Linked DNA regions of Homo sapiens: region 1 is linked to region 2. Evidence: fine-mapped expression QTL. Tissue or cell type: aorta. Region 2 holds a variant in brackets; the other region holds the start of a gene. All regions are shown on one strand. Distances are from middle to middle.

The links. PIP is the estimated chance that this variant, and not a neighbour inherited with it, causes the effect.
Region 1: it holds the start of RAP2A, and the variant in region 2 is fine-mapped to the expression of RAP2A in aorta (GTEx, PIP above 0.99).

The regions. Positions count from the first base shown.
Region 1 is chr13:97,430,096-97,438,188 of GRCh38, forward strand. RAP2A (RAP2A, member of RAS oncogene family) reads left to right here and starts at 4,074. Exons shown (of 2, transcript NM_021033.7): 1 at 4,074-4,689. The coding sequence starts at 4,376. RefSeq lists enhancers at 3,171-3,310, 3,258-4,189, 3,461-3,590, 3,611-3,660 and silencers at 3,811-4,170, 4,191-4,250.
Region 2 is chr13:97,785,599-97,793,706 of GRCh38, forward strand. No RefSeq gene overlaps it. Among named protein-coding and RNA genes, the nearest start is that of IPO5, 160 kb to the right of the region's middle. The variant G/A (reference allele first, on the strand shown) is at 5,031.

The DNA.
Region 1 (8,093 bases), 360 kb before region 2:
TTCCGCAGAATCCTCTAGCTCTTAAGATTCTTCAGGCTTTTTCTTTTTTCTGCCTACATTTTAATCATTACGTCTTTTCTTTCAGATTTTTTTTCTGATTAAAATGGCCTTTTGAAACATCTACTCTCTCCACCCATACGTTTCTTTTATTGAGTTGTTTCCATACTCTTAATTTCTGCATTCTAATTCCTTTTCTTTTCAAAAGCACTGAGACATATCACATTTTTTAAAGGAAGAACAAAGTTTATTTTGCCCCTTCCTTTCCACTCCACATATATACTGCAGATTCTCAACTGTATTAGGAGCCTCACAGGTCAAGAAACCATCGTCTGCTCTCCTTATACTTGCCAGCAGCGTTTCACAGGTGCTAAATGTACTTGACATGCCCTTCCCCTTTATGTTTAATCAGAGGCATGCAGGCTTTAATAAGAAGCATTAGGAATCAGGGTTTTACAGTCGAAAAGTACCCCTCGCATTACAAACATCCTCTACTAATTTGTTTCTATTAAATTATCTGCATATTTGCTTCTTGCTGGTGTCAGGAAGTCCCAGAATACAGTACCTTTCCCACTTCATACCACCTTTTCCAACACCTTTTACAGAAAGAAAGGATGGACTTGGGTTTCCACGGTAACACAAGTGCGATAATTGAAGGTATCTGGCTATAGGTGAGATAACTCCCTTTCAGATTTAGTGGAGAGAGGAGAAATGAAGATTTTCTTTCTTTTTATTCTCCTGGCAATGCACTTTGGAAACTAAAGGGATCCTGCAGTGTCAGTTACTGCGTTAAGTTTTCACTATCTTACAGATTTACAGCTCTTGGGAATAATTCAAATTTCTTTTATATCATTTTTATTTTTTATTTCCCACAAACAAATGAAGATATAAGTTATTTCTATAATCATCTCAAAATAGAGTTTATGCTGGCATCGGAATGAACATGACTAAGGGGTTAGAAAATAGACATCCATCTCCCACCCAAGTCCTCTAAATTCTCTACACGTCCTGACATCCTTTTTATAGCAGCTAATCTTTCACCCAACATTTCACCTACAACCACAAATCAGGTAAGTACCATCATTTAAGCCAGAATAGGTGAGAAAATATGCTCCGACCTGTCATGTTTCTTTTGCCTCTTGGTGGTTAAAAATCAACCTTTATGGTACTGAGCATGAAATCTGAGGCCTGTCAATATAAGGCCTGTAAATAAATGAACTGTAACCACCCCAAGGGCTGCAGTCTCTATACCCCTTCTTATCAAAAACGTCAGCATTGATGAGAGGTCAGGGGAAATAGCCTGAGAAATGTCACAAAGCTGTCCTACTCTGTATTATGCTAAATGGAGTGACTACGGAGCCCACTCACTATTTTTGTGACAGCTTCAATCCAGAGCTTCTCAACATCTAGGGACCTAGGAGTCATGAAAACAGTTACTTAAGGCAACCTTCTGGACCCCACAATCCCAATACAAATTTCTCAAAAACATTAATCACTGGAACTTCATTCCTTGCAAAGTAAATGGACTTAGAGCTCCTTTGTAATGCAAGGTACTAGATGAGTTGTCATGATCTAGAGAGAAAGCTTCACGCTTCCTGGCTCTATTTAACAACCCTAAGAACTTCTTATCACCAAGATGCACAGTTAGAATCTTAAGACAGTCTGTCTTTCCTTGGAAAAGAAGTATAGCTTCTACTAACCCAAAGTAACCATGAATAAGCATACCAATTTTACACAAAATATGAGACTTCTGGAAAGCTAGGTGAACACCATACTTACCTACATCCTCTTGAAACATCCCTGCCAAAGTAGCTCAGATATGAAGCATCCATGTAAGCTCTTTCAATTTTAATTCACTATTTCATGTTAACTAGCCTAGGATGAAATAGTAGATCCTCTTCGGTTCCAGTTCCCTTAAAACAGTCCTGATTCTTAGTCCTTTTTATTAATATAATACCTTCACTGCTGATTCTGGTGGCTCAGATAGTACCATTCATATTTTAATGATATGTAATCAAGAAATGCTGAGTTATATTTTACTACATACACATTTTTAAATTCAGAGGACATTTGTCCTTGATAATTTTAAATGAAAACTTGGTGTGTGTTCATTACAGCAAGGTAATGCAAATATAAGTTATCCATTCTAATATAACGAAGCTATAGGGAAATAAGAAACTACTAAATTTGAGTAGTCTTTGTAGTAGTTTGACTATCGACAGAAAAGATGGTGAAAGAATACCTGGCTTTTAACTCAGACCAAAATCCCCTCTGCATGATGACCTTGTGGGAAAGAGGAACGGGGAGAGGTATGCCAGGCTCTAACAACAGAACTACAGAAACGTGTTATTCGCAGGAAATGTGCGACAGTAACGAACAGGTGAGACTAGTTTGAGAAGGACATAGTTTAAAGAAAGTAAACTGAATAACCAGTTACTGCAAAAAATAATGCAGGAAAGCTTGGGGATGTATCGTCTCCTAAATTTGACGTTATGGGTGGGAGAGGATGTGTAACTAAGATGCAATGCTAGCGACAGAACGCTAAGTTTTAAAACTCAATAGTGAAAGAAAAAAAATAATGTTTTGGGAGGAACGCCTGGAAGACCCATGCAACTGCTGCACGATGTTTCCTTAAGGACCGGAACATTTCTCACCCTGAAGACAAAAGTCCCTGTGTTCTCGATTCAGCCCACATCCCTCAGCACCATTTCCATGCCCATCATTTAGGCAGAATGCCACGGAGGCGACGTGAAAAGTGGAATTCATCATTCTGGCTTGCAACGCATCTTGTTCTTTTGCCAGAACAGGGCACAGCAACTGGCTCCTCAATCTCTGCCCCTCCCAAACCCCAGCAGCCGGTCCCTGTCTCCATCCCGCCGGCCTCGGTGGCAAGGGGCTCGCGAGCTCTGGTTGGCTTGGCCGAAGCTTCCGTCACTCGCCAGCTCACCTACGATTGGTTGGCAGAGCGTGCGCGAAGAGCCCCGCCTGGCAAGGCACTGGGAGGTGGGCTTGCGGATCCTACGACTAGCGTTTTTCTCGATTGGTTGAAGGAGTAAAGGCACGTGGTATGGGGGCGCTCTCTTATTGGTCGTGAATGGTACCTTGTGGTACAGAGACGTGATGTGGTTGGCTAGAATGAATCCCAGCTTCCCACTAGATGCCCCTAGCTGGCTGTTGCTATGAGGAGTCCAGGGCCTTCCGGCTGCCGTTCGGGATTCCGCTCTCCAGGTTTTCAACTCACCCGTGGCTGACAGGGCGTGGGAAGAGCTCGACTTCAGTTCGGCACCGAAAGGGGCGGGTCTAGAAGAAATGTGGGCGGGTCCAGAGGGTTGGTGGGCGGGACCCCGGCGACGTCAGCGGGCTTGGACCCGACTTCCGTGGTGTGTGGCCGCCTCTGACTCGCCCCTCTGGCGCGCTGCTAGAGGGGGGCGTCACCCTCCCATCAATGTCCTAACGCTCCAAAGCTTCATTTTGTTGCGTTTACACAACTTCAGTCAGAAGCCTGTAGGTGCCCCCCCCTTAAAGCTTCACATGCTAATACAAGATAAAACCAAAGCTCTAGGAGTGCTGACAGACTGGGTGGCATCGGACAAAGGCCCTCGCGGCCCCTCTTGGGCCTTGGGCATCTCTCCTTCACTCCCCGCCTCAGGATAAAGCTTGGAGGTAGCTCTAGCCCCTCTACCATCTCATCCCTTCCGAATTCTTAATGTCTCGGGAGTCTCAGGTTGACGCTGCTCCTGGCTTGGGCGGGAACTGCGCATGCTCGGTACACAGGCCCTGGGGTCTGACTGGGCGCGCTGGGTTCGGCGCTGCTCGGCGGTCGCGGTGCTTGTTTATCTCCGCGCGGGCAGAAGCTTCCGAGCCCCGCAAAGCCTCTCGGGAGCGCTCGCGGCCCGTCGCCTAGGGGGCGGGGGCGGGGCTGCGCCGCGGGCTCCGCCCCGGCCGCCGGACCCCGCCCCTGGCCGCGCTGCGGCTGGGGCTCGGGCGCGCGCTCGAGCGCTGGGGGTAGCGGCGGCGGCGGCGGCGGCGGCGGGCGGGGATCTGGGCGTGGAGGCGCGAGGGGCGGGGCGGGCGGCACTGCGGGCCCGCGGCTCGGGCGGCACCAGCGGCTCCCGGTCTCTCTCTCTGCTCGCCCTCAGTCCCACCCGGTGCCTACGGGGCCGCATCGCCGCCCGGCTCGGCCCGGCCCATGCCCAGGGCCGCTGCTCCCTCAGTTGCCGCCGCCGCCGCCGGCGCCCAGGGGGCCGCCGCGGCTGTGAGGTGGGGGCGGCAGCGGGAGGCGGCGGGGCGGGCCGCCGGGGCCGGGGCTGGGGGCGCAGCGCGGCCGGCGTAGGTCTATGTCGCGGGCGGCGGCGGCGGCGGCGGCCGCGGAGGGACGATGCGCGAGTACAAAGTGGTGGTGCTGGGCTCGGGCGGGGTAGGCAAATCCGCCCTGACCGTGCAGTTCGTGACCGGCACCTTCATCGAGAAATACGACCCCACCATCGAGGACTTCTACCGCAAGGAGATCGAGGTGGATTCGTCGCCGTCGGTGCTGGAGATCCTGGACACGGCGGGCACCGAGCAGTTCGCGTCCATGCGGGACCTGTACATCAAGAACGGCCAGGGCTTCATCCTCGTCTACAGCCTCGTCAACCAGCAGAGCTTCCAGGACATCAAGCCCATGCGGGACCAGATCATCCGCGTGAAGCGGTGAGCGAGGGCACACGGGGGCTTGGCGGCTGCACCCCGGAGTCACCGTCCCGGGGCTGGAACTCCCCGCGCGGGGCTCCGGGGAAGGGGCTTTCTGGGGGGTGGCTCCAAGCTGGAGGCTTTACTATTGTCATTCTGCTCCTCCTCCTCAATCTCAAATTTGAGTGCTTTGTTTCACAACTAAAATTTGGCATCGTGTTAGCCCACAGAACAGCTCTTTGTCTCTTGGACGTTGTTAGCATTGCTTGTTACAGAGCCCCCAAGGAAACAAAGTTTAAAACTTGCAGGGGGGAAAGGGGTGGATAGATTTGTCTTGGGAAGAGAGGAACTGTGCAGGTATAGTCGAGACATTTGCAGACTGAACAACAACAATCTGCCTTGGCAATGTTTGACAGTAAAAATCGCTCACACACCTATACAGTAAAGTCAAGTCCAGAGGAAGGAGACCTTTCTCATCTCGTTAAAGGTTTATGGTTCCAAGGCGTTTTACAAAAATTAAGTCTCTAATTTAGTGCAAAACTTTAAAGACAGATTATTAAATTATTTGAAGACATCATAAGCTAAATGGGGTTTCGAGAATATTAACAGAGGAGTACAAATAAGCCATTCACAGGAAAAGAATGCAGCTTAACTGTTTGTTTTTGTTTTTTTGTTTTTAATATAGCCGCCTTAACCCCTTCCAAAAAAAAAAAAAAAAAAAAAACACCACCACACCACCACCACCAGTTCCTGGAAACAAAACAGAAGCTTCTTCAAAAGTGTGACACAAGTATTAGCTAATTTAAAGTTAATGTTAATAAGCCTTTATATATATATATAAATTCTTTTCTAAAGTATACATTTTGGAAATATGGCTGATAAATGATTTAAAATGTTTGTTTTCTCTTAAATTCACTGAATATATTTTTCCGTGTAATTTTAAGCATTAGAAATGTGATAATATCTTAGTTCAAAGTTTTGGCAAATTTTTCTAATTATCATTTAATTACACATTACTGTTTCATCTAGTTCTTGTTAGTTAATGCCTGCTGATAATTTTGGTGTCCTTTTTTTCCTGCCTTATTCTACCTAGAGCCTAAATCTGAAGACCTTTACTGAAAGATGGTTGTAAGTGCACCGTAGACACAGTCACATTGTAAGTCAGTTTGAGTCCACTCATTTTGAAAGAGCAAGGACCAAGTTATGTGTACCCAGGGGATGATCAAAAATTCATTACGAGTAGTGAGTTTTTAATGCAACCTATGAGATCAAAGAGAAGGCTCTCTCTCTATTGCTCCACCCCCCCTTAACTGAGTATGCACTTTAATCGCTGAACTAAAATCGTGCATGTTATTCATCCTTGTGTTAAATTCCAAACTAGAATAAAGCAGATATTTTCGTGGTCTCTGCTGCTAAGATTTGTAAATTTGATAGCTTTGTACTTCTCCAGTATCATTTTCCTAAAGTTAAATGTTTATAGTTAAGAGATGAACAATTCTGGTGTTAAACTTAGTATGAGGATGGCATTTAAGGGGCTACATTTAAGTTACTTAAATTCTTATTACCCCCTCCCCCAACCACTCAATTAAAAAGAAACAAACCAAACCAACTGCAGGGTAGTCTGATACATTGCCACATGTCAATGTTAGGCCAAATGCATACATCAAAAAATAATCTAAGTAAATGCCCCAACAGCCTCACCCTTCACATTTAGATATATATGCTTAAAGATATGAAGATGCACATATACACTGATAAAGCCACATACCCATGGCTAACTTCTTGACACAAGCCTAGGGAACAAATATGGCAAAATATTATTGGATAATATGGTCCACATAATTTTGTAGTTTCTTGTAATTTAGTGCAGATTACTTTTCTCAGTTATAATAATAGGTTAGTCTAAACTCAGCATATTGGAGCAATTTGTTTATTTTCACTATGACCCAGAGGAAAAACATAGAGTAAAATTCTGCATGCCCAGTATCATTTTACTCACTAGTCTCAGTTCTTGATATAAAAAGATCATTGATCAGCTGAAGTAGAGTTCATAAATTCTCTTCACCAGAATTCAACCGTTGTATACATAAGAACCTCTTGGACCCTCACTTGTGTGTCTTTGTAATATGGTAGTAGTAAGGTATTTTACACCTCATCCTAACCCCAGCGTCTGGCTTCCCATCATTGATGGAGAGGACATGTGAATGCAGGTGGCCTCTTCTTTACCAGTCTTTCAGTATTTGATATCTACTGTCAAATTCAGTATTCAGCTTTAGGTCTAGGTCAGCACTTTTCAATAGAGATATAACGTGAGCCACATATGTAATTTTAACATTCCTAGTAGCTGATTTTTTAAAAATAACATAAATATATGGAATTAATTTTAATGTATTTTATTTAACCCACCATATTTAAAATAGAATCATTTTGACATGTCAGTATTCAAAAATTATTAATAAGGTACTTTACTTCTTTATACTGTGTCTTCAAAGTTTGGTATGTGTTTGACCTACCACATCTCAATTCAAACAAGTCACATTTCAAGTGCTCAGTAGCCGTATGTGGCCACAGGCTGCCATATTGGACAACAGAGGTCTAAGGTGTATATGATTTGGGGAAATGCTTGCTTATTTCTCTAAGCTTCAGTTTCCTTATCTGTGAAATAGAGATTAGCATGCACCTTCCAGAGTCCTTGTTAGAATTAAATGAGATAATGTATTTTAACATTCCCAAAACAATACCAGTACACAGAAATTGCTCAAAAAATTCTAGCTGTCATTCTTACTTTAATAACTTTGTCATTTATCTTCCTTAAATGTTACCCTTGATATAAATGTAATTTTAGAAGAAATAAATTTGTAATTGCATTTTGGAATTCATTACTTAGTATATTCAAGATGAGACTAAAAAGCAATGAGGTTAAAATAATCCTTGGAAGAATTGTGTTGGTATTCTCTTGAAATTATTTCCCCTTATGAAGGATCTGATGGAAAAGGGCATGAGAATGAACATTTAACTTCAAGTACAGTATAGCAATAATGCATAGCACTAATGCATAGCCAAACAACGAATGGAGCTTTTCATTTTTCATTTTCATTTCAAATAATAGCAGTCATTTTCAAGGATTGCTATTACTTGAAATGTTTCACTTTTAAGAAATGTGAAACTGACCCATACTCCCTTAAGTGTCTGTAAGTGTACATACCTCCGTATACATACATGACCTCTTGTCAAAGCCAAGTGGACCAACTGAAAATGGCTATATTTGTAAATTCATATGCTTTCTTTTCTTAACTTGATTTTGGGTGAGATGACACACACAAAGAAGAGTAACAGGGATATAGGAAATGTTTTTCAGTTGAAATAAAACTAGAATTTTTTTCTGATTTTGTAATTGCTTTTTTCATTGTTACCCATGCCAGGAT
Region 2 (8,108 bases):
TTTCTTTTGTTTAAGATGCCTAGTTTGTAGTACTTTGTTATAGCAGCCCTAGCAAACTAATACACAGAAAGAGGGTTTTAGGGGTCTCAGTTTCTTACCAACCAGGAGATCCCTGAATTATTTATACAAATTACTAGTCTCTTTCCCAGCTCCCTGGTCTGCTAAGTTATGTAAAATAAAAGACCCTGTCAAACACTTTCCCCAGGTCAATGCCTATGGACTAGCCGTGCACATAAGTTATTTTTTTAAAGTAATTCTACTAAAGGTCTCCTATATACAAGGAAATAATGTCATAAATTTTCTCAAATTTTACAGCAACAAATAGATGTCACTTTACATATACTATCAATTTAAGTATATACATTACAAGTTTGCTTTGTTTAACTACAGATTGTTTGATCCCGGAAACATTGGAGGAACAAATCTTAATGGCATTTAACGATGCCAAATTTGAATGCCTCATTTGATAAATCAGAATTTTTCTGAGCAAATTATTTGTTTCAGCATTTGCTTATACTATGCACATATGGATATCTGAAATACATCCCTATGAAACAAGAAAAAATATAAATGGATTAATTAAGGAGTTGACTCAAGAAGTTAAAAAAAGTAACAAAGTAAGCCAAGGGAAAGTAGAAAAAATGAAAACATTAATACATTAAAAAAGAGATCTCATATAATTGATAAGTATACATGAGCTATTATTTTCTTAAGAAAAAATGAAGCTATATTTAGCCTTTTTTTCAATGAGAAAGAAGAAAGAAAAAATAGTAATGGCAAAGAGAAGAGTACCACAGATACAGAATAAATTAAAGACTTAAGGGTCTTAACTCTGTCTATAGCTCTGTAAATACATTTGAAAATATGAGTAAAATGAGTACCTCTCTTCTTAGAAAATTAAAATTACCAAACTTGATATCATAACAGAAATCTTGTCCTCACAGATCTGTATCCTTAAAAGAAATTAAAATCTTTTGTCAAATGATCTCTTCCTGACAAAAATGCGTCAGTCCTGAAATTTTCCAATGTGAATTCTCACAATCTTCCAGATTTGAATTCCAATACTATGTACACTTTTTCAGAGACTACAGGAAGCAGGAACATTGCTGACTCATCTTTTAAAGAGCAAAAATAAGACTTTCACTTCTGCCCATAGTGGAGTAATAAATAGAAAACAAAGTCACCCTCTCACCTGAACAAAAACAAGAAAAACAAAGCAACAAAATATGTAAAACAATAGCTTTGAAGACACTGGACATCAGGCAATGAAGGAAGGTGATCCCTGGGAGTTGGGCAGTCAATAAAATGAGCCCTGTGGTCGCCTAGCTTACTTCTGCCAGAGTTTCCAGGCTCTAGCAAGGGGTGACCCAGGTGGAGAAGGCCATGGACTCCCTGAATTGAGGAGATAATGCTGAGAGCCCAGGGAGACCCAGGCATTTAGATTTTGCAGGAGTGAGCAGTGGACTGGAGGAGTATAGAAGGAAATTGTATTGATTTATTTTTTTTTTGAGGTGAGTTCTCACTTTGTCACCCAGGCTGGAGTGCAGTGGCGTGATCATGGCTTACTGCAGCCTCTACCTCCCAGGCTCAAGCAAAGGTACATTTTTTCCTCTGAATCACCTTTGCACTATTGTTGCAGACAATTGTCCACATATGCATGGATCTATTTCTGGACTTTCTATTCTATTTCTTTAATATGCCTATCTTTGCACTAATACTACACTGGCTTATTATAATTTTATAACTCTTGAATCAGGTAGTGTTATCCCCCCATCTTCGTTTTTTGTTAAAGTCATTCTGCCTATTTGGGGTCCCTTGCACTTGTAAAAATTTTAGAATCTGGTTGTATATGTCTACAAAAATTAATGCTGTGATTTGTTTGGAATTGTGTTGAATCTAGAGATCAATTTAAGAACTGACATCATAGCAACTTTGATTCTTCTGACCTATAAACATATTTATCTGGGTCTCCTTTGATTTTTCTCAGAACATGTTACAGTTTTCAATGTACAGGCATTACATATCTTTTGTCAGATTTATCCCTAAGTAGTTAACATTTAGGTGCTAATTTGTTTTATAGTTCAGTTTTGGATTGTTCATTCCTAGTTTACAGAAATAGAATTAATTTTTAAGTATTGATCTTGTACCATACAACTTTCCTAAACTTATTTATTAGTTCTAGTTGCTTTTTGTAGATTCCATCTGATTTTCTATTTAACTGATTATGTCATTTGCAAATAAAGACAGTTTCACAATCTGGGTGCCTTTCCTTTTTCTTGCCTCATTGTGCTATCGTAGACCTCCAGAATAATGCTGGATAGAAGTGATGAAAGCAGACATTCACCTTTTCCTGACCTTAAGGACAAACTATAAGTCTTTCACTATCACAAATGTTAGCTGTTGGTTTTTCTTAGATTTCCTTTATCATGTTGAGGAATCTCCTTTCCATTTCTAGTTTGCTGGAAGTTCACATCAGGAATGGGTATTAGATTTCATTAAGTGTTTTTGTACACCTACTGAGATGACCAAAGGGTTTGTCTTTGTTGGGAAAGGCAGTCTCCTACGTGTAGTCTTTTGACCCATACTTGACTGTGTAAGAATGGGCCCTGGGCCTGGAACACTTTCTTACCAAAGTATGAAGAGTCTTCACAGGCTGTGCTGAGCTTGTTGCCTTGTGTGGGAATATCTTTCCCTATTTCAGACCCAGTGTGTGCTTTTATTTCTGCTTAAGTGTGTGTATCACATGGTACTTGGCTAATCCCACTGTTATATCTGTTCTCTGCAGGGAGGGGTCAGGGTCCTTCTGCTGCAGTACAAAAGGCATGTGTGCAGGCCAGCTGCCAGGAGAGACCCACAGGCCATGGAGACTGACACCAACTACTGAAACTGATCTTGCTCTGTCTCTTCTTGTGTGAATAAAGCATTGTTCCATCCAGTGATTGACTGAATTGAATTTTCTTTGGTGGCTCCAATACCAAGAGGCAGTGGGCAGAAATGCTCAGACTTCTACTCCTGATAATAGGCAACAGACATCACCTGTTCAACAGATTAATTTTTGTGTTAATATGGTGAGATACACTGGATGATTTCAAGTGTTAAACCAACCTTGCATTCCTGGTATAAACTCCACTTGCATAAACCCTCTTGTATGTATTGCTGAATTTTATTTGCTAAAAATTTGTCAGGATTTTTTGCATCTATGTTCCTCAGGACATGGACCTATATTTTTTTTCCTTACAATGTCTTTGCCTGGGTTTTTATATGAGAGTAATACTGGCCACAAAGAAACAGTTGAGAAGCATCATAATCCTCTTAAATTTTCTGGAAGAAAATTTGTAGAATTTTAATTATTCCTTAAATTGCAGAATTCACCAGTGAAGTAGCTGGTATGAGAGTTTTCTTTGCTTTAAGGTTTTTAACTACAAATTTAATTTATGTAATAGACAAAAAGCAATTCAGGTTATACATTTCATCCTAAGTAAGATTTGTTAAGTGTATCCTTAAAGAAATTTGACCATTTCATCCAAGTTGTCAAATTTATTACCATAAAGTTGTTCACAGTATTCTCTTATTATCCTTTTAATCCCTGTAGAGACTGTGGTGATGTCACCTCTTTCATTTTCTTTTTCCTGATCAGTCTTGCTAGGGGATTATCAACATTATTGATATTCCCAGAGAACTAACTTTTGGTTTCAGTGATTGATTCATGAAAGGTCCATATATGCAAAATGACACCCAAACATAGAAGGAGCCAAGAAACCAAAGAACAAGGCAGACAAATCCAGTCAGTTGGCAGAAGGTTATTTACTGGGGAACTAACAAACAGGAATGTGGTCTTGGGCAGCCACAAGACAGGTAGAACTCCATGCTGCTGCTCTTCAGGCCTGGGACCTATGTACAATAGGGAAATGTTATACATGCTCCAGGCCTGGGACCCATGTACAATAGGGAAATGTTATACATGCTCCAGAGGGAATGTGCAGGACAATTAAAGTCTTCTTTCTGGGAAAAAAAATACGTGCCTTATAGCCTGTAATTTATGCTATAACATCCAGTTTGTTTTCACCTAAGGGCAAGATTTACAGAAATTATGTGTTCATGCATAAGGAACTGTAGATAAAGTAGAAATCTCAGAGGCATTCCCAAAACTACAGTTAATCAAAAGTCAACATGGAGGACTAGCATCCAAGATGGAGCTACTTTAGCCTTCCTAGTGATTTTTTTTTCAGTTGTTTCATTTATTTCTACTCTTACTCCTATCGTTTCCTTTCTTCTGCTTCTTTTGGATTAAATATACATTTATTTTCCTAGTTTTTAAGGTGGAAGTTGAGGTGATTGATTTGAGTTCCTTATTCTCTTTTACTGACTGCTAAAAATTCCCCTGTAAGTACTGTTTTAACAGCATGCCACAAATATTGGCATGTTAGGTTTTCATTTTCATTCACGTAAAAATATTTTCTAATTTCCTTTTAATGTCTACTTTGACTAATTTATTATTGAAAAGTGCAGTATTTACTTTTTAAATCTTTGAAAACTTTCCAGATATTTTTCTGTTTTGGTGAGAGAACATGCTTTGTATGACTTTAATTCTTATAAATGTATCGAGACTTGTTTTATATTTCAGAATTGGTTTACCATGGTCAGTGTCCCATATGGACATGAAAAAAGAAATGTAATTTCTTTTACATATTCTACTATTATATATTCTAAATAGCATATTCTACTATTATTGGGTAGAGTGTTCTATTAATGTCAATTAGGTCAAGTTGATTGACAGTGTTGTTCAACTCTTCTACATCCTTGAAGATTTTCTGTCTCCTTTTCAAACAAATTATTTAAAGAATGGTATTAAAACCTCTAGCTGTGGATTTGTTGATTTCTTCTTGCAGATCCTGCACCTTTTACTTTATTTTTAAAAATCTCTGTTATTCAGTGCATAAACACTTATGATTTCTTCTGTCCTCTTGATGAATTGACCCTTTTATCATTATGGAATGACTTGTTCTATTTCTGGTTGTCTTCTTTGTTCC[G/A]AAATCTACTTTGGCAAATACTATTACAGCCACTTCTGCTTTCTTTTGATTAATGTTAGCACAATATCTTTTTCCATTCTATTACTGTTTTTACTTTTTGAGACAGGGTCTTACTCTATCACCCAGGCTGGAATGCAGTGGCATGATCTCAGCTTACTACAATCTCTGCCTCCCAGGTTCAAGCAATTCTCATGCCTCAGCCTCCCAAGTAGCTGGGATTACTGATGCATACCACCATGCCCACCTAATTTAGGATTTTTTTTTAGTAGAGATGGGGTTTCACCATGTTCCCCAGGCTGGTTTTGAACTCCTGAGTTCAAGCGATCTGCCCACTTCAGCCTCCCAAAGTGCTAGGATTACAGCCATGAACCACTGAGCCCAGCCCCATCCTATTACTTTAAATATAGCTCTGTCTTTATATTTAAAGAGTATTTTTTTGTAAGCAGTATATAGTTGGATTTTTTATCTAATCTGAAAAATCTGCATTTTAATTGGGTATTTAGACATTTACATTTAATATTATATGATTAATGATATGGTTAGACTTCAATCACCCATCTTGCTATTCATTTTCTCTTTGGCCTATTTGTTCTTTGTTTCCTTTTTCCTCTTTATTTACCTTTTTTTTTCAATTCATTTTGATCTCTTTCAGATGTGTCATGAATATAACTCTGTTTTTTTTAGCCATTGCTTTAAGGGTTTATGGCACATATTTTTAACTTATCACAATCGATGTTAATATTATACCAATTCAGCAATAGTGTGAGAACCAGATGCCCCTCAACTTCAATGGGGTGATATCCCAAGAAACCCATCATAAGTTAAAAATATCAGAAGTCACAAATGCATTTAATTACACCCAACCCACCAAACATTATAGCTCAGCCTGCGTTGCCTTAAACGTGCTCAGAACACTTAAACTAACTTACAGTTGGGCAAAATCATCTAACACAAAATCTGCATTATAATAAAGTGTTGAAAATCTCATTTAATTTATTGAATATTATACTGCAAGTGAAAAACAGAAGGATTGTATGGGTACTCAAGTATAGTTTTTACTTCATGTGTACCACTTTTGTACCATGATAAAATAAAAAAACTAAGTCAAATTGTATTAGTCCATTCTCACACTACTATAAAGAAATACCTGAGACTGGGTAATTTATAAAGAAAAGAGGTTTAATTGTTTCATGGTTCTGCAGGCTGTACAGGAAGCATGATGCTGGCATCTGTTCAGCTTCTCAGAAGGCCTCAGGAAACTTACAATCATGGCAAAAGGTGAAAGGGAAACACACATATCATCATGGCTAGAGCAGGAGCAAGAGAGGGTAAGAGGGTAGGTGTTGCACACTTTTAAACAACCATATCTCATGGGAACTCACTATCACAAGAAGAGCAGCAAGTGGATGGTGCTAAACCATTCATGATAAATTTGTCTCCATGATTCAACCACCTCTCACCAGGCCCTACCTCCAACATTGGGGAGTATAATTCAACATGAGATTTGGTGGGAACAGATCCAAATAATACCATTCTGCCCCTGGCCCCCCAAAGCTCATGTCCTTCTCATTTTACAAAACAAAATCATCCTTCTGAACAGTCCTCCAAAGTCTTAACTCATTTCAGCATTAACTCAAAAGTCCACAGTCCAAAGTTGCATCTGAGACAAGACTACTCCCTTTTGCTTACGAGCCTGTAAAATAAAAAATAAGTTAGCTACTTCCAAGACACAATAGGGGTAAATGCATCAGGTAAATACTGCCTTTCCAAAATGGAGAACTCAGCCAAAAGAAAGGGGCTATAGAGCCCATGCAAGTCCAAAACCCAGCAGGGCCATCATTAAATCTTAAAGCTCTAAAATAATCTCCTTTGGCTCCATGTCCTAAATCCAGGTCACAATGATACAAGGAGTGGGCTCCTTGGGAAGTTCCACCTCTGTGACTCTGCAGGGTACAGCCCCTGTAGCTGCTGTCACAGGCTGGTGTTGAGTGTCTTTGGCTTTTCCAGGCACACGGTGCAAGCTGTCAGTAAATCTACCATTCTGGGGTCTGGGAGACAGTGGTCCTCTTCTCACAGCTTTACTAGGCAGTGCCCCAGTGGGGACTCTGTGTGGGGCTCTAGCCCCACATTTCCCCTCTGCACTGCCCTAGTAGTGGTTTTCCCTGAGGGCACCATCCCTGCAGCAGTCTTCTGCCTAAACATCCAAGCTTTTCCATACATCTTCTGAAATCTAGGTGGAGGCTCCCAAGCTTCAACTCTTGTACTCTGTGCACCTGCAGGCTTAACACCACATGGAAGCCACCATGGCTCACAGCTTGCACCCTCTGAAGCAATGTTCTGAGCTGCACCTGGGGCCCTTCTAGCTATGGCTGAAGATGGAGTGACTGGGATGTGAGGAGCAGTGTCCTGAGGCTGCATAGGGCAATGGGGTCCTGTGTCTGGCCCACAAAACATTCTGTCCTCCTAGGTCTCAGGGCCTGTGATAGGAGAGGCTGCCACAAAGATCTCTAAAACATCTTTGAGGCCTTCTCCCCATTGTCTTGGCTATTAGTATTTGGCTCCTTTTCACTTATGCAAATTTCTGCAGTACTGGGGGAACCCACCCCCAATGTTTCAACGTAGGTTCTTTCTATTTTCCCTAAGTGTTGGCCTGTCTGATAAATAAAGAGAAAGAGTACAAAGAGAGGAATTTTACAGCTGGGCCGCTGGGGGTGACATCACATATCAGCAGGTCCGTGATGCCCACCTGAGCTGCAAAACCAGCTAGTTTTTTTTAGGGATTTCAAAAGGGGAGGGAGTGTACATACAGGGAGTAGGTCACATGCTTCAAGGGGCAAAAGGCAGAGCAGAGATCACATGCTTCTGAGGAAACAGTACCAGAGCAAAATCAGAAACTCCTGATAAGGGTCTATATTCAGCAGTGCGCACATTGTCTTGATAAACATCTTAACAGAAAACAGGGTTCGAGAGCAGAGAACGGGTTTGACCTCAAATTTACCAGGGCTGGGGTTTCCCAATTCCAGCAAGCCTGAGGGTACTGCAGGAGACCAGGGTGTATCTCAGTCCTTATCTCAACTG